Homo sapiens: one gene and its partners. The protein of the gene in region 7 interacts with the protein of the main gene of each other region in a biochemical or structural test. Each region holds a gene or a part of one and is shown on either strand. Other genes may lie near its edges. The genes, in order: GPRC6A, MARCHF3, CNKSR2, PTH1R, MAST2, SLCO1C1 and LNX1.

Region 1 (3,250 bases), on a different chromosome or scaffold from region 7:
CTATATACATTATAATCATAGACTTCCTCACACTGATTGAAGATGTTGATATGTGCCTGTTTCTCCTTGGATTTTGAGCTCCTTGAGATCATCAAAGACACCTTGCTGCTTTTGTACCTTGTTATTTAGCATATCAACTGGTTCATAGTAATTGCTCAAGTGCTTGTTCAACTACACTGAACAGTGGAAGAAAAGTAAAAATGCTCAAGAGAGGAGAATCCAAAGAGATTTGAGAAGAGGGTGTCGGGAATGGAGTAAGGATGACACATTACGGGACAACTTTGATTAGAAGAGAAGTCTTTAACGATGTGCCTAAGAGGAAGCAGGTAAAGATGGAGACCAATGAAAAAGGTAGGAAATGAAGGGAGCTTCAGGCTGAAGGCTCAATTCTATTTGTTAAATAGGTGATTGAACAGAGTGACTGTTCAACTAAAACTTGGTAAAGATGGTGGCAAGGAAATATATATGACATATTTGCTGGGAAAGTAAATTTATATCTTAGATGCAAAGACCCTGGAAACATTTTATTCTGGAATGTGGCATCTCCTAAGGCTTATTCATATACTTGACATTCTTTTTCGAGGCAAAGTTTTAGATACACTTGTGGCATTTTCCCTGCATATGTGTGCAAATGCTTGTGCCTGAAGATCTTTGCTTTTCTGCCAGGTTGCAGACTTGCCACTAGAGCTGGGATTGGTCATTGTGACATTGCCGCTCATGGAGTCCAGTGAAGCAGGACTCAGGGCAATGCTGCTCACACTATGGGAAGAATAACTGTAGATCATCTTGAGAAAGGCAGACTTTGTGTTAATCTCTTGCTTACAAATAATAACATAGCATTTGGGGATGAATGTGCAATACAGGATTCCATAGTTAGATATTAATATGACAATAATCTCCACAGCTGGTACATATTTGCCAAATGTGGTAGCATAGATAGGGATGAATGTGATCCAAGCTATGAAGTAAATGAGCATGCCAAATGTAATGAATTTGGCTTCATTGTAATTCTCATATTTGCCTTTGAAAGCAAATATGAAGCAAATGAAGGCCAGGATGGCAATGTAGCCCAGCATGGTGCCAAATGCAAGTATGGATCCCTCCTCACACTCCAGGATGATGACTCTGGGCAAGGAGACATTCACCTCTACAGTAGGTGCTGCAAAGATTAGCCAGAGTGTGCAAATGACAACCTGGATGCCCGTGCAAGTGAAGATAATAAGGATCGGTCTATAGAGGCACTTCAGAAATTTCTGTAATTTGGGATCAAAGCTGAAGGCTAGCAAAATTTTCAGAGACTTCGTCAAAATGCAGGAGATGCAAAGAGTAAAGCTCACTCCAAACATTGTCTGCCTGGTTTTACATGTGAAGTCTTGTGGTTCTCCAATGAAAAAGCTCGTGCTGGCAAAATTGAGGAAATGACAGAGAAGGATCACATAGCAGACTCTTAATCCCCCGGATGATTTCACAACAGGTGTGTTCAGGTTTCTTGTAAATATTATGCCAACAACCAGAACAAATATGATTCCCAGTAGGGAGAGAATCAGGAGTAGGATGGCCAAGGAGTCATTCCAGTTGAGATATTCCACTTCCTTTTCAAAGCACATAGTGCTCCTAACAGGGGCCCAGTGAGTTTTGTTGTTGCATAAAAGGCAGTGAGGCATATCTAAAAGACAGAGGAGACGCAGTTACATTGTCAACATTTAAACTAGGTGATAGTCCACAATACTACAAATGAGATTCGTCTTCTTTAATAGTTCTGACTAGAGAATAGATATAGATGATTGTTACATTGGTTACTTATTAAAATAAAACATGCTAAAACTCAAAGAAAGTGAGAGAGAAAGGGTAAAAGTGAGGAAAAAGGAAAAGAAAGAGAAAATAGAGAAAGAAAAAAAGCCAGCTGGATTGTGAATGTTTAGGAAATGAATATACTCAGAATAGATGCTAGCTTCTTATGCATTTGCTATTATAGATGATGGTTCCAGCACTCTTAAGAATAAGGTTTTGGAATCAGACGTAGCTTTTCTTATCTCTTCCACTTATAATTCCTGTAAACTTGAACAAACTAACTGAACTTTCTGAGCCTATTTCAGAATCTCCCATATCTCAAAAAATAATAAAATGAAAAGACTCTGCCGTATTGTGATGCCGTACTTAATGAGATAATAAATGTAAAATGCTTCACACAGACCATTACACATAGTAGACCCTCAATGTATGGGAGTTGCTATCGTGAATAAGGGTGCAGGTCTTTCAAAAGCAGAGGCAATATGGCTAGGTCACTCTGAAAGCTTGAAGTCTCTTTCTAAAAGTGAGATAATGCAAAATTGTAATCGATGGCAATTGATGAAGAATTAAAGTTTATTTTTTCTCCAAGTAGTGGGTAAATCAGAGCCTCTCACACTGTAAGTGTTAACTTTGAAAAGTATTTATGCTTATTCTGGCTGCAGGGCAGCACAAATACTTGATTTTAGAGTTTTGTCTCTAGAAGTGATATTACATTTGCTCCCCATTCCAGCCACCCAAAGTTGGTGAGTCTCAGCTGCAATCAAAGGGCCTCTGTCAGGGCATTCATCTGATGACACCCCACAGCCTGTACAACTCTTTAAAATTTTGTGTTCTCTTCTTTATTAACCTCAAAGTAAGGTTGTATTTCTGTTTATAAACTTCATGACCCTTCCAGCCTCCTCCTCTTTCCGAACTCTATTCCCCTAAAAAATCTGTTCTTTTCTGTTTGCCCTGTAACCACAGTTGCTAGTGTCTGTCATTTCATTCGTCCAGTGGACATTTAATGGCCTCATCTAGGTATGGGAGCTGTGTGTTAGAGAGATAGAGAGGAACAGCAGATGGTATCCTTTTAGGCTTTCCTAACTCCTAGCTTATCCTCCAAGTTGTCTTCAGTCTTCTACATTTCTCCATTTGTTCTTGGAAGCGACTTACCCTGTTACCAAAAGAAAACCCAGATACAGCCTTTAAAGGGTCCCGTACGTCTTTATGGAAAATAAATGTTACATACTCCTTGGTGTTTTTATTTCTCTCACTTGGAAGGTAGTTGCTAGTTACCATGTTGCCTGAAAAACTCCCTCGCTAATTATCTAATTTTTTAGGCAGTGGTATAGCATTTTTATTTATTGATAATTTAAATGCTCAATTCCACTAATATAAACATTATTAAACATACCAAGGAACGGGAAAATTTTAAATGTGAGATAATAAAATGCAGATACATATAAAGTTTTGATACTCT
Region 2 (3,500 bases), on a different chromosome or scaffold from region 7:
AGAGAGTGCATTTTAACAAGACCCCCAGGTGATCCGCATGTGCATTCAAGCCTGAGACGCACTGCTTCAAGGAACACAGGGAGTCAGCGACTTAGCAGGTCTCCTGGTTCCATGGCCAGGAAATTAAAAAATTCAGCCCACTTGTGTAGACAAACAGATGAGATCTTATTATACATTAATCTATTTTAATTGTGGTTAATCACTACAGTCTGCAGGCAAATTCAATTAATAAGAAGAAAGCAACATAAGAAGATGCTTCTTTGTCAGGGAAAATAAAGGCAAGTTGAGCACAACGCCAAGGAGACCACAGGTTTGCATTGCCCTGGGTTAATGCTACTTCTCTAGATGCTCCAAGACACTGCATCCCTGCAATGCAATATAATTGGAAAGAAAGGAGGTCTAATTTAGAAGAAGAATAAGGCAGCGAGGAAAAAGAAAACATAAAAAGATGCTCCAACAATAATGTTAGGAATTTCACTTAGATATTTCTTAAATTTTTGAGTTTAGGAGAGAGGAGGAAGAGAGTATAGGGCCACTATTATAAAAATACTGCTCCTTATGGGATGCGCTTCCTGAAGTTTCTAGTTTATTCATCTAACTAACCTCCTATCATGGGCAAGTCTGCTGTACAAAGAGTTGTGATCGCATGAATATTATGAGAAGGGTTAGAAAATGTTAGCATCCACTCTTCCCATTAGGGAGGTGACTGCGGCTGGGGCAAAGGTGTGCTATAAAGTCACAGCAGGCGGCCTGGTGCAGTGGCTCATGCCTGTAATCCCAGCACTTTGGGAGGCCGAGGCAGGCAGATCACCTGAGGTTGGGAGTTTGAGACTGCCTGACCAACATGGAGAAACCCCGTCTCTACTAAAAATACAAAATTAGCTGGGCGTGGTGGCACATGCCTGTAATCCCAGCTACTTGGGAGGCTGAAGCAGGAGAATCGCTTGAACCTGGGAGGCGGAGGTTGCGGTGATCTCGGCTCACACCACTGCACTGCAGCCTGGGCAACAAGAGCGAAACTCCCTCTCAAAAAAAAAAAAAAAAAAGTCACAGAAGGCTTTGGGATATCTGATTACATATTTTGATTTTGCCCTTTCTCTCTGGAAGTGGTGTGACTTAGGGATATCGATGGGACTAGGCCTTGGCAAACGGCCTCCTCAGCAATGTGCCCAGCTCACCTATCTATCTCTGACTGCACTGGGGAAAAGGAGTATAGGAGTGAATTGGTCATGGGGAAATACCGCTGAATACCCTCAGGATGCTTGTAGGCCGTGTGGGGGATGTGTCTAAAGCAGCCCCACAGTGAGCCTTGTTGGGACAGCGTTCCATTGGCAGTTCCCCCTTTATAAGAAGAATTTAAACAATCAAACCTTGGGACTGGGAGTCACACTTTGAGGAACCGGGTCGCTCATTCATTCCCTTCTGTGCTGGACACTGGTTGCATCAGTGATGCAGTGAGTGGAAAGACTTCCTGTACATGGTGCCTCAATTCTCCTCCAAACTCCAAACTGGGGCTGATACCAAGTCCATTACCGACAATTTCTTCATGTTTAATGTGGACTCAGTTCTCAGCCAGCTCTCTTTGTGTCTGTCTACGGGTTTCAAATCACTTGTGACATGGACAGTGATGTTTCTAGGACACCTCTCCCTGAGCTCTTAGGGTGGAGCTGACCAAGGCCCTGGCCTCCTGGGGCCCAGGTGTGCTTCTGGAACACAGCAGGTTCCAGAAGGTGGGACTCCATGAGGGTGTGTCAAGGCTGGACCTGCATGGCCACGTGTGCCTGCGAGAAACTCCAAGGCACTCTGAGGCGTGCAGCGTGAGCGCTTGTCCTTCTTCACAGTACCAGGGAGGCCCTTCCAGGAACGGCTCCTCTGAGGAGCCAGGCTTGGACTGACACCGTGTTTGTTTATCTAAGACATTTTCACAGCATATTCTCCTTAAGCTTGACAGCTTGTTTACAATGGGTTTCTGCCGCAGGGCAGTTTCCAAGTGCTGTCAGCTTCTGAATTACGGCTCTTGCCAGGGCCGCTCAGCACAGCATTTATCTGGGACGGAGTTATTCTATATTCAGTAACCTATTGCTGAGCTGACTCCACAGCACGTTTTTCACACCAGTCAAAGGGGGAGAGATGCCTTCTTTCCCTCCTGCTACTTTGCATTCTATAAAGGGCAGGGGGAGGGTGGAAGCTGGGGGAGCAGGGAAGCCGCAGGAAGGAGCCTGGGGCCAACACTCTGCTAGGTGCTTGCATGTATGTTCTCAGACGTTATCTCACTTACTCTTTGCAATAACCGATTGACCTAGCGGTTATCAATTATTTCCTGTATTTTTTTGTACAAGAGGAAGGATGAACAGAGAGGTTAAGTATCCTATTTGAATTTACACTGTTATTAGGGTGATAAATCTTGGGTTTAAACACAGGGCCCTTGGATTCTAAACGCATGCATAGCACTGCCCGTGAGAAACATTTCTGGAATGAAGTATGTTACCATTTTCCTGAAAGAGCCTAGTCTAGGTACCTTTTCTACCCAAACCTTCCTTTCACCTGAGATGGGAGATGAAACGAGGTCACATCCATTTTTTCTTGAGATAACCTTTCTTTTCTTCCTTTCTTCCTTCTTTTCCAGCCACCTATCACCCTGTTTCTTTCTTGTTAGATAAGTGTATGCTTTACAAAGCAGGATTTCAGAAAGGCCTTACATTGGTTTTGAAAGCCCAGCATTTAAGCTCACTTCATCCATCCTTCATCATAGGCACTCTTCTAAAAAAAATTATAGACTAGAAAACCTCTAAACATGGCAAGAACTTATATTATTCTCCAAAGTACTTTCCCATAAACACTTTGACTTAAATCTCATAACACCAGGGGAATTTGGCAGGATGGGCATTACCACTATTTCCACTTGACAGATGAGGACACTGAGCCTCACAGAAGCCAAATGACTTTCCCAGGGTGGTGCTGTTGACCAGGAGTTAGATAGTGCTGCTTAGACTCCTTCATTTCTTATTTCTAACCCTCCTCCCATCACAATGGAAGCTACTGGAACAGCTTCGTTGCCTGATTCAAAATGAACCAGGATGAACTTTGGAAGCGTAGACTTTTTTTTTTTTGAGATGGAGTCTCACTCTGTCACCAAGGCTGGAGTACAGTGGCACGATCTTGGCTCAGTGCAACTCTGCCTTCTAGGTTCAAGCAATTCTCCTGCCTTGGCCTCCCAAATAGCTAGTATTACAGACATGCACCACGATGCCCAGCTAATTTTTGTATTTTTAGTAGAGACAGGGTTTCGCCATGTTGGCCAGGCTGGTCTCGAACTTCTGACCTCAAGTGATCCGCCCGCCTCAGCCTCCCAAAGTGCTGGGATTACAGGCATGAGCCACCGCGCCCAGCTGGAAGCGTAGACTTCTAAAGGAAGCAATAATAGTTTTGCTTGGGGCTTCACTAGCCTGGGAACAGAATGTCTAAATTAACCATAAGACTCAGATAAGTTCTTAGCATTA
Region 3 (4,275 bases), on a different chromosome or scaffold from region 7:
GAAATTTCAGCAGTAAGTAGTCTGGGATTTGAAATATACAGGTAATTATATCATTCATTCTCTTCCAGTCATATGTATACACGATACACAAACTATCTTGGCTACCCAATTGATCTTTTCAAATAGCTCTAAAATGCGTCACCAACAGGTATGAAAACAAGGTATTCGACTTACATTTAAAAAAAATTTTCAAATCACAGCTAACAATGTTAACCTAACTTCAAAGAAGCCACATTTTAGGCTGGAAAGATTTTTAAAGGACTGGTGTACTGGACAACTAATAATGTGTGTCAGAATAGGTGCATCATATATTCTACTTGCTTCAGTGGACCTAAACTATGGAGAGAGGGGAAACTGCAAGAATATAACTGGGAGGGTGGGAGGTGGAGACTGAGTATGCAGCACTCACTACAGGCATCATGGGAATTTGCGAAAGGTAGTCTATGAAGGTAATCAGACTCCCATGGAGCCAAGATAGCTTGTCTTTTAATATTTCAGCAACAGACTCAAACTAAAGTAACCTTTTAGACAAATTCAAAGAACGGGGTTTTAAGCATTGTTGCTTCCTGTATATACTCTGGCTCTTTCTTCCATCACTGAGAAACGGAGAAGGTGGAGAGTGAGGATAATTGGTGGGAATCTAAGATATTGGAATTTCAATAGCAAATACATAAAGAGAAAAAGCAGCAGCAAAGATGAGCCACTGCAGGACTTTGTCTTAGTCATCTTTATATCCCCCATGGCACCTTAGCACAATGCACTGCACACAGGGGTGCAGTCGATAAATAATGTATTAGGTTTAATTCAATTCACTCACATTTGTACTGCTTAGCAGTTACAAAGCAGTTTCCACATATTAGAAAAGAAAAGCAAAGTAAATGAGGAATAAAGGGGCAAGTAAGGGAATAAAAGGAAAGCAAAATAAAGAAAAATCCACAAGAATAAGCAAGCGGCCAAAAAGGCTGGGGAAAAGAATGAGCAAAAAAAATCAGTTTCTCCCTGTCACTCTCAATCCCTCCCAATCACCTCACCTTTCGTTCTAAATTATCTGGAGCTTAGAAAGTCTGACTGTTAAGTAAGCCCAAGAAGGGGCTCCTTCATCGTAGGAACGGGCATTTTCAGCGATAATAAGCCTTTGGTCCCTGACTGATCTACCTAGAGTTTGCTCAGGTATGACCTCGAGCAAAGCGCTAACATTTCCCAAGTGTGGCCACGCATCCTTTATTCCATTCCATCCCATCCATCCCCTCTTCAATTCCCAAAATCTTAGGGAAGAGTTGGGCCTGAGGATCCAAGGGGTTGGTGGGTGGGGGAGTCCTCTACAAGCCCCTTAACTCAGACAACAGAGGGAGGTAGTGAGACAGGAAAGCCCAGGGATCAGAAAAAAAGCTCACGTTTGCGATTAGGAGGGTGAGTGTCTATAACTGTGGTTATTATAAATCGCCAGGGACAAAAGGGGGAACCTTCAAGATGGAAGAAATGTGAAGGTACCTGAATGCGCATCACCTTACATCTGGCGTTGAGCCCTTAATAAAAAGCCGTGAGGTCCAAAACCTCGACTGGCTTGAAAGGGAGAAAGCAGAGAAGGCAAAGGATGCGAGGGGATGCGCTGGAGGCAGCCCAGAGACAGCAGCAAGGATGCTGTCCCAGGGGAAGCATGATGTCCTCACCCTCAAAGTAGCACATACCCCCACCCTGGGCATCCTCAGCCAAATCTGGGTGTGGGGGGATGCCAGGCTCCGAATGGGGGCGGCCGCGTCCTGACCCCATTATGTGGGCTAAAAGTTGCTTGGGAGAGTTGGCGCTGGGGAAGGCACCTGGCAAGGGCGGCCGCCGAGGGGGCGTCAGCTTTCCCAGGAACAAAGGGGCCAGGAAAGGGCGACCAGGGGAGCAGGTCCTGGGGGAGTCCACCCTGAGCTGGGAGATAAGGGTCGCCACGTCCTCCTGGCCCGGGGGCAGTAAGGGGAGAGGGGAGTACGCAAGATGCGCCGGTATTCTGCCTCCCGACTTCCTGCCTCCAACGGGGTGGCGCCCGCTGCCCTCTAGCTCTCTGGCCGCTCCGCGCCCCTCTAGCTGGAGACAAAAGGAGACCGGGGACCCCAGGCCCCTGCCAGTCCTGGAGGACCCCCGCCCCGACGCGTACGACGATCCGCCAGTGGAAGCCGCGGTGGCGGGCTCTGGCGCGGCGGGCGCCCCCTCCTAACCTCGCACTGGTGCCCCGCGCCCCAGTGCCGCCTCACCCTCCCCGCAGCGGGCATTACCTTTCATCCAGTCCACTACTTGACTCGGAGACCATTTGCTCACCGGTTCCATTATCAGAGCCATGGGTACGGGGTCGGTTCCGTGCAGAGCGCAGAGCTCAGACACAAAACGAACTCAGCAGCCCGAGCTGCTCTCAGGTGGGGTCCCTTGCTGGCCGCAGCCTCCCTGGGCGGGCGGCGCGGAGAAAGCGGCTTTTGTGTGTCGGGTCTCGCGGCTGTAACGTCTTTTAGCCAACCGCCGGCAGGAACGGCGACAGGGAGGTAAACGTGCAGGAGTCGTGGCTCCGCGCCGGGTCTGCTCAGTTCCCGCTAAGGCGGCGGCGGCGGCGGCTGCTGCTGCTGCTGCTGCTGCTGCTGCTGCTGCTGCCTCCGCCGCTCCGCTCCGGTCTCCGTCCCTAGGGAGCTTCAGTTCATAGCTTGAGTTGCTGAGGGGTCGCGTCGCCGAGGGAAGCAGCCTCTGCCGCACGCCCTCAGCCAACTTGCCCGCTCGCCTCACGCGCGGGAGTGAAGCCCCGAGCACGACTAGCTGCCCGGCGGAAATGACGAGGGGCCTCCTGCCACCCAAAATATCTCTCCGCAGCCCTCGGGTGCGGGGCGCGCGCGCCACGAGCCCCCCGCCCGCTCGCTGCCGCGCGGTCCCGCCCCCAGGGCCGACGGCAGGCGCGCGAGGCGCGTGCGCGTGCGCGTGCCGGCACGAGGCCGGAGCCCAGGGTCTGTCTGGCAGGCAGACAGGTGCCAGCAGCTCGCAGCCTGGCGTTCCCGCTCTGGGGGCCGTCCGGGAACAGAGGCGCGCGAAGTGCGCGTGCGCGGCGGCGGAGGCGGTGGCGGCGCGAGGCAGAGCCAGAGCCCGGGGTCGGTCAATCAGGTGCGGGCGGCTGGAGCATGGCTTTGTGAGGCCTCTGAGGGGACCCGGCGGTGGCGGCCACGGCGGGACGGGCCGCCCACCAGTTGAACTCCGACAGCTGAGGCGGCTGAGGAGGTATCCGCGGCCCCACCACCGAGGGGAGGGGGACACCACTGAGCGCGGGGCTTACAGCGAGAGCCCGGGCTTTCCTGGCTCTCGCTTTCGCCCTCGCCCTCCCCGCTGCTGAGTGGGCTCCGGAGGTGATTCCCGAGACCCGCGTACGCCTGCAGAGACGGAGGTGTGGACTGCCGTGGACGAGAACGGGGCTCCGCCTGCCAGAAGCGCAGCGATGATGAGGCAGGAGGGCTAGTGCTGTCGGATCTTCCCCGGGTGATGAGCGGGTCCTGGGAAGTCAGGCGTTGAGGCTGTCACCTGCCAGCTGCTGGTTGTGGTGATCCTGAGACAGGTTCTGCCCCAAGTACCATTTTAAAGGGCTCTGTTTCAGGTTTTGGGCCAACTCCTCTAAAGTACCTATTTTAGAGAAGTCATTTTGTGTTTGATATTCTTATATATTAATAAGAACCGAAGGGCAACAATGGGATTTAAAATGAGTGACAAATTGTAGACATGATTTTTCAAAACTCATTTTCTTCAAAAACCATACACAGGCTACTATGCAACGGTTAGTAAAATACAGTTTGCCTAATGAGGCTTCACTTTAAAAGACAAATATTCCTAGAGTGTAGATGCTAACTCTCTGCCACCGTTATAGGCGTTTTCTCTATCATTCTTAAATAGGTCCATTAAGTAAAAGAAACTTTTTAAATAAGCATTCCAGTAATGTCAATAGGTTTTGCCAGTTCCTATGGTAACCCATTTTCTCTAGTCCAATTTTATAAGATGCAGAAATGTCACGTTCTTTAACCGGCATGAGTTGACGACACCCTTCCCCCCCACACACACACACACAAACAGCTGAAACCACAGTAGTTAAAATATTGTGACGTTTTTAACTGCTGATTTCAATGCTAGTGATAGCGAACAAGTAAAATTTAAGATGGCCTGTATTTAGGCTTCTTTATTTTTCTAACTATCCAAACTTAGAAGTATATGCAGAATTTTGGAAAGACATTTAGAAAATTATCTAGACAAGCCTACATTCAGAGGACA
Region 4 (3,500 bases), on a different chromosome or scaffold from region 7:
GAGAGGGAAAGATATGTGCTTCCAGCACGCATGACTCCCACACTCCTTCATTCATCCATAGGGGTGGTGGCCCCACCTCTGGCCTCCCTGAACTTTAGGACCTATTTATCTGTTAGCACAGCCATTGCAACAAGAATAACTCATGTTAAAGTTAAGGAAGCACTTTCCCAAGAAGAGGAGGACAACCCCACACCAAGTGCGCTACCCCTCCAAACGTTAGCTCACAGCTCCGTGCCTGGAATGCCCCCACTCCTGTTCACTCCTCCCTCCAGCTGTGCCCTCCTCTTCAAGGAGATTCTGCCACCAGCCCCACAATGTGAATCCCACCTCCACCCTTGACTAGCTTCGTGTCTGAGAAAGTTGCTTAACCCGTGTGCCTCAGTTTTCCTGTAAAATCAGGGTAATAATAGGGCTGTTGTTGGCCCGGCACGGTGGCTAACACCAGTAATCCCAGCACTTTGGGAGGCCAAACCAGGTGGATCACCTGAGGTCAGGAGTTCGAGACCAGCCTGACCAACATGGAGAAACCTTGTCTCTACTGAAAAATACAAAATTAGCTGGGTGTGGTGGTGCGCCTGTAATCCCAGCTACTCGGGAGGCCGAGGCAGCAGAATCGCTCAAACCTGGGAGCGGAGGTTCCAGTGAGCCGAGATCGCGCCATTGCACTCTAGCCTGGGCAACAAGAGCGAAACTCCATCTCAAAAAAAAAAAAAAAAAAAAAAAAGCTGCTGTGAAGATTAAATGAAGTACTTCACAACAAGCCTGTGCAGGGGTGAAGCTCAGGAAAAGCTGGTTGCTATTGTTGATACTGTGAGCAGCAGCAGCAGCAGCAAGTCACATCCCCGCCATGTGCACCCCTGCTGCCTGGTGACATGGGTGCTCCCAGCCAGGCCAGGGACCCAAGGTGGCTGGGGGAGATTATCTGGGTAGATGGCTGAGTCCAGCAGGTGACAGTGAGGGGCAGATGGGAGATGGGGCCCCAGGGTGGACTGGGGGCAGGGACTACAGGAGGACCTGCTAGATAAGGTGTTCCTGGCAAGCTTTTGGGATGGAAGAGTATCCCAATGGCTCCTTGCATTTCTGGATCCACTCTGGACTTACATTAGGATTCAAGGTTACTGCCAGAGGCCCCAAGCTTGAGCTTAGGAGGAAAAAGGACCCCCTCCTCTGCCTCTGCCCTGACTGAGGAGGCCTTATCTCCTGGGGATGAAGGGGAAATGCTGACAGCTGTATCTCTTCTCAGCCTGGCATGCCCCCTGTCTGCTACTCCCTTCTCCCCGCCCCTCCAACCCTCTCTCCCTTGAGGAGTTCCTGTCTTCTTGGCTCAGCGCCAGGGTGCAGAGGACTCAGGCTTGCGTCCCCTTAGATCCAGCGGATCTGCAGATCTTGGGTCTCAGGGGTGAGGACTGAGGGACTGGGGCTGGGCTGTGGCCAGGGGTCACTTAGTCCATACCCACCACTTACAGGCCACCCAGCCCTGCACCAGCTGTCCCATATCCCCCCAACACTCCTCCTATGGTCCTGATTAGGGCTGACTTGACTCCCCCAACCCAGCCATCATGGTGCTTGGCTTCAATACCCTCCACTGTAGCACATCCTCCCCATGGTCAGCAAGGAGCTTTAAAACCCATGCCTCCTGCACCTTCTACCACATCCCCATTTTACAGACAGGGACACTGAGGCCAAGAGTCACAGAAAGAGGAGGGCCAGGGATGGAGCTAAGATCTGCTTGACACTGAAGCAGCAGCCTTGGAAGAAGGGAAAGAGAGGAGGAAGTGCCCAGCCACACGGGTACCCTGGCACCAGCCACGGTATCATCTTTCCATAATCCTGGATTTTAGCTGCTACATTAAGCAAGTCTCCCTTTGCAGATCCCCTAAGGCAGCCTCCCCGAAGCCGATTTAGGAGCAGAGGTGTGTAGACATAAAGGTGCCGGTGATGCCAGTGATGGCGGCTTGTCCCCAGCTGTAACTGGGTAGAGGACAGTTGGGCTCTGGTGTTGGGAACCAGGCCGTTGATGCCTCCAGCACAGCCAGAAGGAGAAAACCCTGGCTAACAGGAGACCCCTTCATGACCTCCTGGCCTTCCTACAGCCCTCCTCCAGGTTCTACTACTGGGACCCATGCTGGCACCCCTGGATGTCTCCCGTGCCAGCTGGCTGGGACTGCTCCCCCACCCCTGCTGCCCTCTCTCTGTCCGGCTGGCCTGAGCAGGCTCCTCGTCCTGCCCCGCCACCGCTGACAAGTGCTGACTTTTCCTCCCCTTCGCCAGGCTTTCCTGAACAGGCTGCCTGTGTTTGGGGCTGGGAGGGGCTGGGGGGGAAGAGGCACTGTGACGCCTCTCATCCTGGCCAGCCAGCGTGGCCGCCTTCGGGGCAGGCAGTGGGATGCAGCCTGGGATAGCGGAGTTGGCTGCTACGACCTGGTGGATCTTCATAAGCAGGCCCTACTTGGGTTGAGGAATCAAGGCCCAGAAGAACAGTATGGCCTAATCTAAGCCATCGCCTGCTCAGCAGAATGGGATCCCACTAGGTCTCACCTCGGGCATAAGACTGGCCCCAGAGTTGGGGCTTTTAAGGGTTTGAAGGTCTCTGATGTTTCTGCAAACCTGAGCAAAAGTTTGCGCCCTTCTCCCAATCACACCGTATTTTGCAGACAATTTCAGAGGTCTGCAAAACCCTCGCCCCACCTTTTCTTTTTCCTGAGGACTCTCCTTCTGAAATAGCTGCCTTCCTGATGTGGTGGCTGGACCAGGGAGTGTCCCCAGAAGGCCCACAACAGGAATCTGAGGGAGGCTACTTGACGCCTCATTAAAACATTCCGAAGAAAACCCCAGTTCCTCGGAGGGCTCGGCACCCTCCTGCTGCTCTGTCCATAAGCCGTTTCAAGAGCTGAGGTGAATGTGTTTAAGAGCAGGTGATATAAAAAGCTTCAACAAATCAATACGAAAAAGACAAATAACCCATAGAATGATGGTTAATGGCCCCGAGCAAGCTCTCACTGTAAAGCCCAGAAGTCACTGGTAATCAGCAAATTAAAATGACAAGAGACACCATTTTCACCTATCCAAGCAAAGGTGAAACACAAAGAATCCTCTTAACATCCTATGAGACAGTGGGTGTGGGCAGAGAGGCCCTCCTGGTTGGTCTTGGTGTTGTATAAGTACAAAGCAGCACAAGCTTTTTAGAGGGCAATTTGGCCATGCTATTAAAATAAAAAATATGTATATTCTCAGGCCCAGCAATGACAAAATCTAGAAATATCCTACTAGGAAATAGTCACATGGGGACACTAGAGGGCATTTCAAGGAGCTTCCCTGCCACCATCTGGAATCACGCACATATAGACACACACACAAATTATGCAGAAATGATCTAAATGTACATTCCTATGGACTACTTAATGAGTCCCAGGTTTTGGAATACTATGCAGCATTTAAAAATATAGATTCATATTTACTGAAATGAAGATCTCTAAGACACACATTTACGTCAAAATATG
Region 5 (3,500 bases), on a different chromosome or scaffold from region 7:
CTACAGTGGAGTTGGGAAGCATGAGGCATGAGGACATGTAAATAGTAATTACAATACTGCAAGAAGTGTTGCAGTTGAGGTCAGTACACAGCGTAACGGGAACCTGGAAAAGGAAGTGCTTTAGTCTTCCCTGGAAGGAACATTCAGTGAATGCTCCCTGGGGGACGTGAGGCTTATTCAGCAAACTGAAGGATGAGTCTAAGTTTCCCAGATCGGGAGCATGGGAAGGAGCATTCAGTGGGGCACAGGGTGGGTTTGAAGAAGTGCTGAGGGGTAAGCCTGGAAGGTAGGCTGTGACAGGGTCATGGAGGGTGTCGGGTTCTCGGCTCTGGAGTTTTTCATTACCCTTACGGCCACTTGGAGACACCAGAAAGTTTAGGTAAGAATGTGACATGGCCGCATTTACTTTTTTCTTAAAAAATATTATTAAGGTATAATTTTCATACAATAAAATATATCCCTTTGATGGTACAGTTCATTGAGATTTAACAAATACACACTTGTAGAATCGTGGCCACAGCTGACATAGAGAATATTTCTGTCATATAAGTTCCCTTGTGCCCCTTTGAAGTCAGTCCTCTCTTCCTCCTGCTCCCAGACAATAACTTAACTGCTTTGTTTCACTAGGGATGGGTTTGCCTTTTGTACAGTTTCCTAGAAATGAAACCATGTTTCTGTGTGGTTTCTGTAGTATGTTCTGAATTCTTTCACTCAGCATGTTTGTAGAAATTCATACATGTTGTTGCATGTATCAGTAATTGGTTCCTATTTATTTCTGTGTAAATATTACATCAGATTTAGTCCTAAGAAAGATTACTTTGGCTGCAACATGGATAGTGAATTGGAAGAGAGGGCAGGATGAGCCAGGGACATCAGGGGAGAGGTACTCAAAGCAAATTCATGTGAGATGGGGTGGCCAGAACTCAGACAGTGAATGGTAGGATAATAGAGAGAAAGAGGTGGATTAGAGGGGTATTTATGAGAGAGACATTCTGACCAAATAGGAGCTAAGGAAGGATAAGAAGTTAAAAGGACTTCCAGGTCTGGCGTAGGTTATATCCAGATAGGTACAGTTCTCCAAAACAGTGAGGCCACAGGGAATGAGAACAGAGTTCAGGGCAGAGGCTATGCTGTGATAGAGCAGAGAGCCTCTCCCTCAGGAACATGAAGTCCTTGGCTAAGCAGGGGCTTGGAGTCAGACCTGGGCTGAATGCTGGTTTTCTGTTCCTTCCTACTACTGTGATTATGGACAAATCAGTGCATCCCTGAAAGCCTTGATTTCCTCAGTGAGGTCAAAGAGTTGCTAGAGGGTTTAACCCAGTGTGTGGCACTTAGTAGGCACTCAGTTATTATGTGCAGACAAGGATTGTGCTTTTCAATGGATTTCCAGCCTCTAGCACATAGGAGGTGCCCAGTAAATATTTGAAGGTATACATGCACCAGTAGGGCTTTGCCAAAGCTCTTGTGAGCCATAATTGAGTGTGTGCCAGGACAGCTGTGGACTGGGCATCTGAATACACCAGACAGTGCCACCTGGCTGATGGAAAGCATGGGACCAGATCAATAGGCTGAGCTCTCTTTAGAGTAAAACCTCTAGTTCTTACTGCCAGGAAGACAGCATATGCTTAGCATGTCCAATCTGGAGGTGACCTGTAAGACATCTTTGTCCCCATTCCTGTGATCCCTGAATCATGTTGTTTCTGAATATTCAGGGGTGGGAGTGTCCTATCACAGAGAAAGTCTTGTTCATCTCAGTCTACTATATGCTGTAAAACCAAAGATGCCAGCAGCTTTCGCTTATATCTGTCACCACTGACTATCTCTCTCCCTTGGTACAGGAGTTTGACCCTGAAGAGTTCTACCACCTTTTAGAAGCAGCTGAGGGCCACGCCAAAGAGGGACAAGGGATTAAATGTGACATTCCCCGCTACATCGTTAGCCAGCTGGGCCTCACCCGGGATCCCCTAGAAGGTGAGCATGCTGCCTAGTGGCTGCAAAGAGGCCCCACTGCTGCTGGCAAGCTCTAACAGCAGGGAAGCTGCTTGGAAAAGAGACTTAGCTTGGACATGGACACAACATGGCCCCGGGGGCCTCAGGATTTTAGGAGATACCCTGTGATCTCTGTGACAAAACAGTCTTTACTTTGGAACTGCTGTTCACATCTGCCTGATAGATCCCAACCTGGATTGCATTGGCCCGGCTGAGTTGCATTTAGAACCTCAGTTCCAAAGAGGTCAACAACAAAGGGCCACAATCACATTTGCAAAAATGGTCACCTCCTCTGCAACTTGCCTCTACTCTTGGCCACCTTACAGGTCTTCCTGTGTCTTTGGGGTAGTCCAACACAGGGCTTCAGAGGATACTGCCATTCTTCTGGGCTTCCTGCTGAACCCCTGCAGCAACCATGGGCTTCCAAGTCCCTGGTCTGTAGGTATCCTGCTCCTGCCTTCTGTGCTTCCCAGCCCCATCCAGTGAAGCAGTCTTGGCCAGCAGGATGGGAACTAGTAACCCAGTTTCAGGCCCTGTTTTCCAGGAAATGTCCCCAGTTTATAGAATTTGCCAGGCCCTGTGAATGGCAATGGACTTCTGGAAATGGGAGTAGCAGTAGGATTTGGCTTGTTTCCTGATCCAAAAGCTGGGACTACATTGGGTATAGTGCCATGGGACTGAATTCACATCCTAGGCTGATGCAAAAAGCATTAATGACTACCCTACATGCACCTGTTGTGTGATCTGAGGATACTGCTGAGATACCTGACATTGCCACGCACATTCTTCTCTTGTATCTTTGTTTCCAGAAATGGCCCAGTTGAGCAGCTGTGACAGTCCTGACACTCCAGAGACAGATGATTCTATTGAGGTAAAAACCCTGAGCTCCTACCCCATTCCTGGAGCCTGGGCCCTATGAAGCAAAGAGCTATGAATTCTCTTTAAGAGAATATCTGAGGAAGGGATGGGGGAGTTGGTGACAGCAAACACTGAGAAGTCATTCTACTCCCAGAAGAATGAGCAGGAGACTGCACTAGAGCTGACAGCTGAGAAGATGCTAGAGCCACAGCTTCTGCAAGGATATGGGCTCTGAGAAGCATGCCTGTCTCCTGCCTTTTCCCTTGTCTTCCAGGGCCATGGGGCATCTCTGCCATCTAAAAAGACACCCTCTGAAGAGGACTTCGAGACCATTAAGCTCATCAGCAATGGCGCCTATGGGTAAAGGCAGGGGTCAGGGTGTGGCCAGGACTGAAGCCGGGTCAGCCTTTGATCTCTTCCATGTGAGAGTGTATGCTGCCCAGTCCTCTGGGCAGATGCCTCGGGGTGGACCTTCTCACTCCCAGAAGCCTCCTGGGTGGGCAGGAGTTCAGATTCCTCTGACATCCGATCATTGTTCCTTTCCCAGACAAGATTCCCACGCCTCTTACTACCACGCATCCTCCATTCCCTGAGCTCTGGGGAAGCATTGAGCCGTGTCATCAGGACATGGTCTATCAAGAAGTTTAAGAGTT
Region 6 (3,500 bases), on a different chromosome or scaffold from region 7:
TAATATACTTCTGTGCAAAGGTGTATAAAAATAGCTAACAAGGTAGAAAAGTAAACTTTTAGAGCAATTTATGACACTACTTCAATGCATCACAGGTGGGGTGTGTGTGTGTGTTGTGTGTGTGCAAATTTCATTCAGAATTGTTGTCTAAGTATGAGTGGAATGGATATTACTAATGGTCCAGTAAAAGGAAAAATAGCCAATCAGTTATCAGTTAATTCTCTTTCAGTGTTTGCAGGAGTTACATGTCCTCTTGCATGTGTGTAACCAACAAGTGCATTCCCAGTTCATTCAACCTTTCTCCTGTGTATCCTCCCAGTGTATAGTGCTCTTTCATATCTTATAGCATCCTTTCTTACTCAAATTCACAAGTAAGTTCAATGACTTACCCATTTATTTGTTGATAAAATTTTACTGGAAGCCTACTAAGTGCTAGCTCCGGGAGAATAGGAGATGGTTACAAACATTAATGAGACAAAATTTGCACCCCCCCCCAAAATTGGTTTTTTTGAGTTATTTCACAAAATTGTGATTGCATTCTTTCTTTTCTCCTTCATTTTTTTTTGTTCTCTGCCATTCGCTTTTATATTTATCCTTCATCTCTCCCAGTATTCTCTCTCCCTCACTTTTTTTTCTGTCACCTGAATGGCCTAATCCTTCTGCTTTTATCCTTTTTTTTGCTATTCATATTCCTCTACTCTTCTCAAAAGGAACTTTTGCAATGGTATGTCATTTCTATCTGCACCATATGTGCCATTCATTGGCCCTCCATACTTCATTTTTTCTGCTCCTTATTTTCAAATTTATTTATTTGCTTATTCCTCATATCTTTCCTCCCATTTTTTATAAAGATAGCTGAGGAGCTTAAACAAACAAAAAATACACTGAACTGTACAATCAAGAGAGGCAGGAACTATTTTTGTATTCACTCCCATATGTCCAGAACCAGGAATAATTCCTGTCACACAGCAAGCTAAGAAACAAAATTTCCAGTAAGTTAGTCAATTAAAAAATGGTACTTTATTTTGGAGAAATAAATTAATCACTTGAGCCTCTGCCTCTGAGAAGTATTGTCATTAATGATGGCAACCATAATTTCTTAATCAGTGTAATACTTCATCTAGTAGAACTGGTATGATGAATTTTGTCACCTCAAAAGTACAAACCAAAGACCTCTGAGATGTCTCCAAATAGTGTGAAAGGGTACTGAACTAGGCCTTCTGAGATGTGCTATAGGAATGTTTAATCCTATTCTCTTCCATAAAATTTTAATTGTTAACTGAGACTGTTTGTATTATCTGAAAGTATAAAACTGCCTTTTAAAGTCTAGAATCATTTAACTCTGGAAACTGTAGGGCTGAGATTATAGAAGGTTGGAGCTGGAGGGAACATTGGAGTAATCTATGCCAACCTCTTACTTGGCAGATCAAGGAAGTCAGCCCCTACGTGGGTGGGTAACATGCTCAAATTCACACTGCTTGCTAGTGACAAACCTGGAAACTGAACCCTGCCAGGTTTCTTGATTGTAAATTCTTATGTCCACATCAGAGTTGTCCTTGTTATTGCAGAAGAGAGATTTCTTCCATTATCATATCTAAGACTTGTCTTCAGTTTTCCTATTGAATATTCAGGTCAAGACAGCGTTTGGAATAAAGCAACATGGAAAAACCCATGGGAAACATTTTATATTTTATAAAGAAAAATACTTTATAGTATTGAAAGTTTAATTTATCATCAGGGGCAGGAATCATTGGGATACATCTTTTCTGAAGGATGTGCTGACAGTAGATTTGTAATTTAGAATTTTAATTATAAGACGAGTTTTAACAAATATGCCAGAATGTTTATGCCCAAATGAGATTTCCTTTCAAGATAGTTATGCTGAAAGATGAGAGCTTTTCCTTAAAGGTTAAATCTTTGCCCTTGTTAAGAATATTCTCAAAAATATACAAAGAAATTCAAAATAAGAGTCTTAGAATATTTTAAACAACAGTAGCATTACTGCAATACAATTATAGTCTTTCAAGGTGACTCCTTTGAAGAGGCTAGTACTCACTCAATGAAAATGTTACCTTTTATTTGTTTAAAATATTTAATCTTTGATTATGTAGGAATACTTTTAATGGGAATCTCAAAGTTTGCTTTTGTTGTCTGCTTTGTGTTTACTTTTGGCTTAGAAATTATGATGCAGAAAGAATGTTCTACTTTGAGTCACGCCTGTGTTCAAACCCCAGATCCATGCAGTTTCTTTTAAACAAGGATAACAAAACTAAACTCATAAAGGTGTTTTGAGGATATAATGAGATCATGAAAGTTAAGGTGTTTTGGAAATCACAAACTATAAAGTCCTCTACAACTGTCCCTCTACCGTGAGGATTTCTGGGACAGTTAAAGATGGCACTGGGCTTCTGCTCTCTCCAGAATCATCTTCCATTTCATTGTTACAACTAACATTCTTAATCCATATCACTGACTTTCACTAAGGCAGCACTACACTCAGCTGAGTCTAACAATGTGGCTGTGATAACTCCCAGAAGCCGTAATTTATGAACTTTGCATTCACCAATCTTCCTGAACATTGTAGATGGCCAAAACTATAACAGGCGCTCATTTAGCAGCAGATGAAACCAGGTTAATAAAGGTGATGGAAGTTGGAACATAGAGACAAGACAGATAAGCAGGGAAGCAAGAGTAGGACGGGAGATGGACAGCAGGCTGTAAGCAAGAAGCCACAGAATAGGCAGGAAACAGAATATAGTGTCAGGAGTGTTTGCTTTTGAGCCACAGGCAGAGTTTCAGGTGGCCAGGCAGATACAGTTGGGAAGGCCTTCCTGGCACATGATGGAGACTCGATAATTTTTTTAGAAAACAAATAATGCATATATAGGTGAAATGATGAAGAAAGTTACCTCTGGAAATTCATGTGAAGTGGTAGAGTGATGGGAAAGACTCTCAATGGGCAAGGGCAATATAGTTCCTACAAGATTCAACCTTGTATTGAGAGAGACTCTGGAAACCAAGCAATGTAATCACCCACCCCATACAAGATGAGAGGCCTGAAGGCATCACTAAATATTCTCCTGACCAATTGCAAGACACTCAGCTAAAGAGAACTTTTATGGGGAACACTGGGTTGAAGGACAGGCGTTGTTTCCTGAAACTTTACATGATTCAAGCACAACAGCAACTATGGAGGATTGCAAAGAGGTAACTCCAGTTCCTCAGATGTTCAAAGGAGGAAGAAAACAATTGTTTCCATGAATGGCACATTTAGCTTGTGTCAGGCAAGTAGCATTCACTTTCATGTATGTTAGCTTGCTTAAACCTTACAAAAGTTTAAAAGGTAGTTATTACTTCTGTTTTTAAGATGGGAAAATTGAAGTTGGATTAGTTTAAACCACATGTACATCATTTCATTAAGAATAGACAGAGGCATTATTCAAGGTTTGTATTTCTGCTATCATGTTGTTTTTCTAAATTAATCAGGTTGGTTCTCTAGT
Region 7 (3,500 bases):
GAATGACCTGCAGCTCTGAAATCTCAATGGTCAGCAATTCTGGAATAATGGCCCATACTACCTGACACATGTGAAACTAATCTGTGGCAGAAAGACAATTTGTAAATGTATCATTGTATTTGTCTGCTCTCATGCTGCTATTAAAGACATACCCGAGAATGGGTCATTTATAAAGGTTTAATGAACTCACAGTTTTACATGGCTGGGGAGGCCTCTCAGTCATGGTGGAAGATGAAGGAAGAGCAAAGGGATGTCTTACATGGTGGCAGACAAGAGAGCCTGTGCAGGGGAACTCCCATTTATAAAATCATCAGATCTCGTGAGACTTACTATCTCGAGAACAGCATGGGAAAGACCCACCCCCATGAATCAGTTACCTCCTGCCAGGTCCCTCCGATGACATATGGGAATTATGGGAGCTACAATTCAAGGTGAAGTTTGACTGGGGACACAGTCAAACCATATCGATGATGTGGAGTGGACCTTTCCAATAAGTACTATATTTGCTATTCTGAATGCCTGTCCAAATATCAATGTACATAGCAGAGAGAATTAGCAGAGTAACTGGTAGTTCCATAAAAAATAAAGAAATCAAGGCAAATTACTCTTTTGCAGTTTTTTAAACATTTTGTATTTCAATAGCTTTAGGAATACACGTGGTTTTTGGTTACATGGATGCATTGTATGGTGGTGAAGTCTGAGATTTTAGTGCACCTGTCACCTGAATAGTGTACACTGTACCAAATAGGCAGTTTTTCATCCCTCACCCCACTCACCCTCCCCTTTTCTGAGTCTCCAAAGTCCATTATATTACTCTGCCTCTGCATCTCCAGAGCTAAGCTCCCACTTACAAGTGAGAACATGCAGTATTTGATTTTCCATTCCTCTGTTACTTCACTTAAAATAATGGCCTCCAGTTCCATCCAAGTTGCTGCAAAAGACATTTTTTCATTCTTTTTTGTGGCTGAGTAGTATTCCATGGTATATACATACCACATTTTCTTTATCTACCTATCAGTTGATGGGCACTTAAGTTGATTCCATGTCTTTGTGATTGTGAATTGAAGGTAAAGGATTTTGATTAGGTTGTACATATTAATGTATGAAGTCATCCCCATATTTCTAAAGTGCTAAACCTTTCCTATGCCCAAATATTTGCAAGTGTCAGGCTCAGGATTTCTCTTCCTGCAGTGGCAAGTTACTGCCATTAACTCCATCTCTTTTTCTTTACTGTGTACCATTGATCTTAGATCTTTGCTTTGGGCTGCTACTTTACACAGTGCACCTAATTCTATCTGGGAAGAACTTAGGGCATGGCTTGTGTGTGGTACAACCATTAATTAAAAATGAATTAGCAATATCTGATGATGCCTTTTCAAAGATTGGAAGGAACCAAACCTTCCCTAGTTTTCCCTTGGAGCAACATTTACTACCTGGTTTAAGGATAAAGGAAAGAGCTCTCATGCTCTTGGCAAATTACAAGATGGATAGTAACAAAAAAACCCAACAAACTAGAAATCATGTTTTGCCATAAAAAAATGGTATAATCAAAGTGATGTTTTTGTAAGCTCCTGGTGCTGAATGCAGTGGATGGAAACTGACAGTGGCTAATGCCTGTGTCTTCTTGCCCAGGCCAGTGAAAGACGTGTTCACCTCGTCGTGTCCCGCCAGGTTCGGCAGCGGAGCCCTGACATCTTTCAGGAAGCCGGCTGGAACAGCAATGGCAGCTGGTCCCCAGGGCCAGGGGAGAGGAGCAACACTCCCAAGGTGAGGCCTCTAGGGCAGGTCGCCTGCTCCTGCAAGGGGCTATTTCTTGGGAAGGCTGCTTGTTTTAACATGTCTAAGTGTCATCTCTGGACTTTTTTACTTAAAGAAACACTTTGACTTGTAAAACTAAAAGCCCAAAGTCCCATATTTAAGACTTGGAGAGATAACAGGTGTCTCCCATCCAAGCAGGAGAGAAGAAGGTGCAGGAAAGTTTTGAAACCTGATCATGCAGACCTCATACAGGGACCTGATTTCTAGCCTAAGCCAAATAAATGGCATGTTTTTACCAAGAGTCATCTTGTTTGAGGACTTATTTTATTCACTTTGAAATGAAGCAAGCAGTTTGCCTGGTTTCTGGCTTTTGAATTTTTCAGTCTGCCTAGAAATGAGTGATTTCCCCGCTACTTTTAGTTTTTGTTTGTGTTTGCCGAAGGGCCCAGGAAGATAATTTAAACACTTGAAGCTCATGTAACATTAGGGAGTGGTGGGGATTGGGGCAAACCAGAGAGCACATGTTATATGGCATTCAAATCCAGAAAACTCTAAAACACTGTGGATCTGTGGGTGGAATTCATTCTTCAGGCCACCAGTTTGCAGCCTCACTTTAAATGAAGTGACTCAGCCCAATTTGTACTTCTCTCTGTGGCTTCTATTAGAGGCAATGCCTTAACCTCTTCATTTGGATGCGTGTTTAAGCAACACAAACCTTGTTTAGTCCAAATTAAGAGTCCTATAGCTTTGGCTTGGCATCCTGTTGTGATGCTGATGAGCTTCTTTCAGTCATCTCTCCTGAGTTCTGGTTTCATGGCATCACTTGTAACTAAAAAAAATTCTTAAAGGTAGCTCATTCTTCTTGCAACAGAAAGTAGGGAATGCCCTTTTCTTTCTACGTCAATCTATATGTTGGTTGGAATAGCTTACAAATTGAGTTTTTGAGTAATATATAGAGAAACAATATTCAAATTTTTTATTTTGGAACATCTCTGCTTTATACTATGTTAATTACATAGCCTACAAGGTTATACACCCCTCCAGGTTCTCCAGCCAGCCAAGCCTCATAAATCCATAAATTACCTGTTTCTCTACAATAAGGAGTCTAGACAGACCAGATATATCCTGCTAAAACATTTTATGGATAAGGACTCCGTGATGTCTTTTTGCTAGTAAATGCTTAATGTTTAAATTTAACTGATCATCTTTATTAATGAAAAACTAGTTTATTAGCTTAATTAATTAATTGAAGTTTTTATCCAATTAACTAATTTTAGTTGAATTAACTAGAATACGTCATATTCTAAGTCATCAAATTATGGAGAAGGTAGCCTCCATCTGCACTGTGGTTTTAGAATTCCTTCCACCTCCTCATCATGAAAGAGCTGGGAGGATCTGGTCACATTTCTGCTGCAACCCTCTGTCATATGTCTTAATTCCTGGAAACGTGCAAACTGACTTAGTCGGAATTGTAATTATTTCCGTTTTAACTTATATTCTATCTGACTTCTGAAATATCCTCACAAAAAAGTAACATATTTAAAAAAACTGAGACATATATGGCTCTTTGATTATTTCAGTTTTTATATTCTTACTAAAATCTTGTTTGGTTTAGGAAACCAGGTAGCTTTTTAAAAATAAGAGCTTAAACAATTCAAAGAAATACCAAAGAAGACAAAGCAGGATTTGTGGGACAGAAAACTTTTAGCCAATTAAAAAAGTTAAGGAATGCTAGGCATCAA

The links.
Region 1: the proteins of LNX1 (region 7) and GPRC6A interact in a test that uses a peptide from one of them, tested with the Homo sapiens proteins (one large-scale study listed by IntAct).
Region 2: the proteins of LNX1 (region 7) and MARCHF3 interact in a test that uses a peptide from one of them, tested with the Homo sapiens proteins (one large-scale study listed by IntAct).
Region 3: the proteins of LNX1 (region 7) and CNKSR2 interact in a test that uses a peptide from one of them, tested with the Homo sapiens proteins (one large-scale study listed by IntAct).
Region 4: the proteins of LNX1 (region 7) and PTH1R interact in a test that uses a peptide from one of them, tested with the Homo sapiens proteins (one large-scale study listed by IntAct).
Region 5: the proteins of LNX1 (region 7) and MAST2 interact in a test that uses a peptide from one of them, tested with the Homo sapiens proteins (one large-scale study listed by IntAct).
Region 6: the proteins of LNX1 (region 7) and SLCO1C1 interact in a test that uses a peptide from one of them, tested with the Homo sapiens proteins (one large-scale study listed by IntAct).

What each region holds. Positions count from the first base shown.
Region 1 is NC_000006.12:116,791,585-116,794,834, forward strand, and holds the end of GPRC6A (G-protein coupled receptor family C group 6 member A isoform 1 precursor), read right to left. Parts: intron 2,945-3,250; coding exon of another isoform or gene 2,940-2,944; exon of another isoform or gene 2,632-2,939; intron 1,667-2,631; coding exon 558-1,666; 3' UTR 501-557; downstream 1-500. UniProt on the Homo sapiens protein: Receptor activated by multiple ligands, including osteocalcin (BGLAP), basic amino acids, and various cations. Activated by amino acids with a preference for basic amino acids such as L-Lys, L-Arg and L-ornithine but also by small and polar amino acids.
Region 2 is NC_000005.10:126,873,559-126,877,058, forward strand, and holds part of MARCHF3 (E3 ubiquitin-protein ligase MARCHF3), read right to left. Parts: intron 1-3,500. UniProt on the Homo sapiens protein: E3 ubiquitin-protein ligase which may be involved in endosomal trafficking. E3 ubiquitin ligases accept ubiquitin from an E2 ubiquitin-conjugating enzyme in the form of a thioester and then directly transfer the ubiquitin to targeted substrates.
Region 3 is NC_000023.11:21,372,948-21,377,222, reverse strand, and holds the start of CNKSR2 (connector enhancer of kinase suppressor of ras 2), read right to left. Parts: upstream 2,801-4,275; 5' UTR 2,326-2,800; coding exon 2,262-2,325; intron 1-2,261. Other genes in the region: uncharacterized protein LOC105373146, read left to right, coding at 2,801-3,240.
Region 4 is NC_000003.12:46,887,721-46,891,220, reverse strand, and holds part of PTH1R (parathyroid hormone/parathyroid hormone-related peptide receptor precursor), read right to left. Parts: intron 1-3,500.
Region 5 is NC_000001.11:46,020,112-46,023,611, forward strand, and holds part of MAST2 (microtubule-associated serine/threonine-protein kinase 2), read left to right. Parts: intron 1-1,838; coding exon 1,839-1,971; intron 1,972-2,798; coding exon 2,799-2,860; intron 2,861-3,121; coding exon 3,122-3,207; intron 3,208-3,500. UniProt on the Homo sapiens protein: Appears to link the dystrophin/utrophin network with microtubule filaments via the syntrophins. Phosphorylation of DMD or UTRN may modulate their affinities for associated proteins. Functions in a multi-protein complex in spermatid maturation.
Region 6 is NC_000012.12:20,733,332-20,736,831, reverse strand, and holds part of SLCO1C1 (solute carrier organic anion transporter family member 1C1), read right to left. Parts: intron 1-3,500. UniProt on the Homo sapiens protein: Mediates the Na(+)-independent high affinity transport of organic anions such as the thyroid hormones L-thyroxine (T4), L-thyroxine sulfate (T4S), and 3,3',5'-triiodo-L-thyronine (reverse T3, rT3) at the plasma membrane.
Region 7 is NC_000004.12:53,479,987-53,483,486, reverse strand, and holds part of LNX1 (E3 ubiquitin-protein ligase LNX), read left to right. Parts: intron 1-1,632; coding exon 1,633-1,767; intron 1,768-3,500.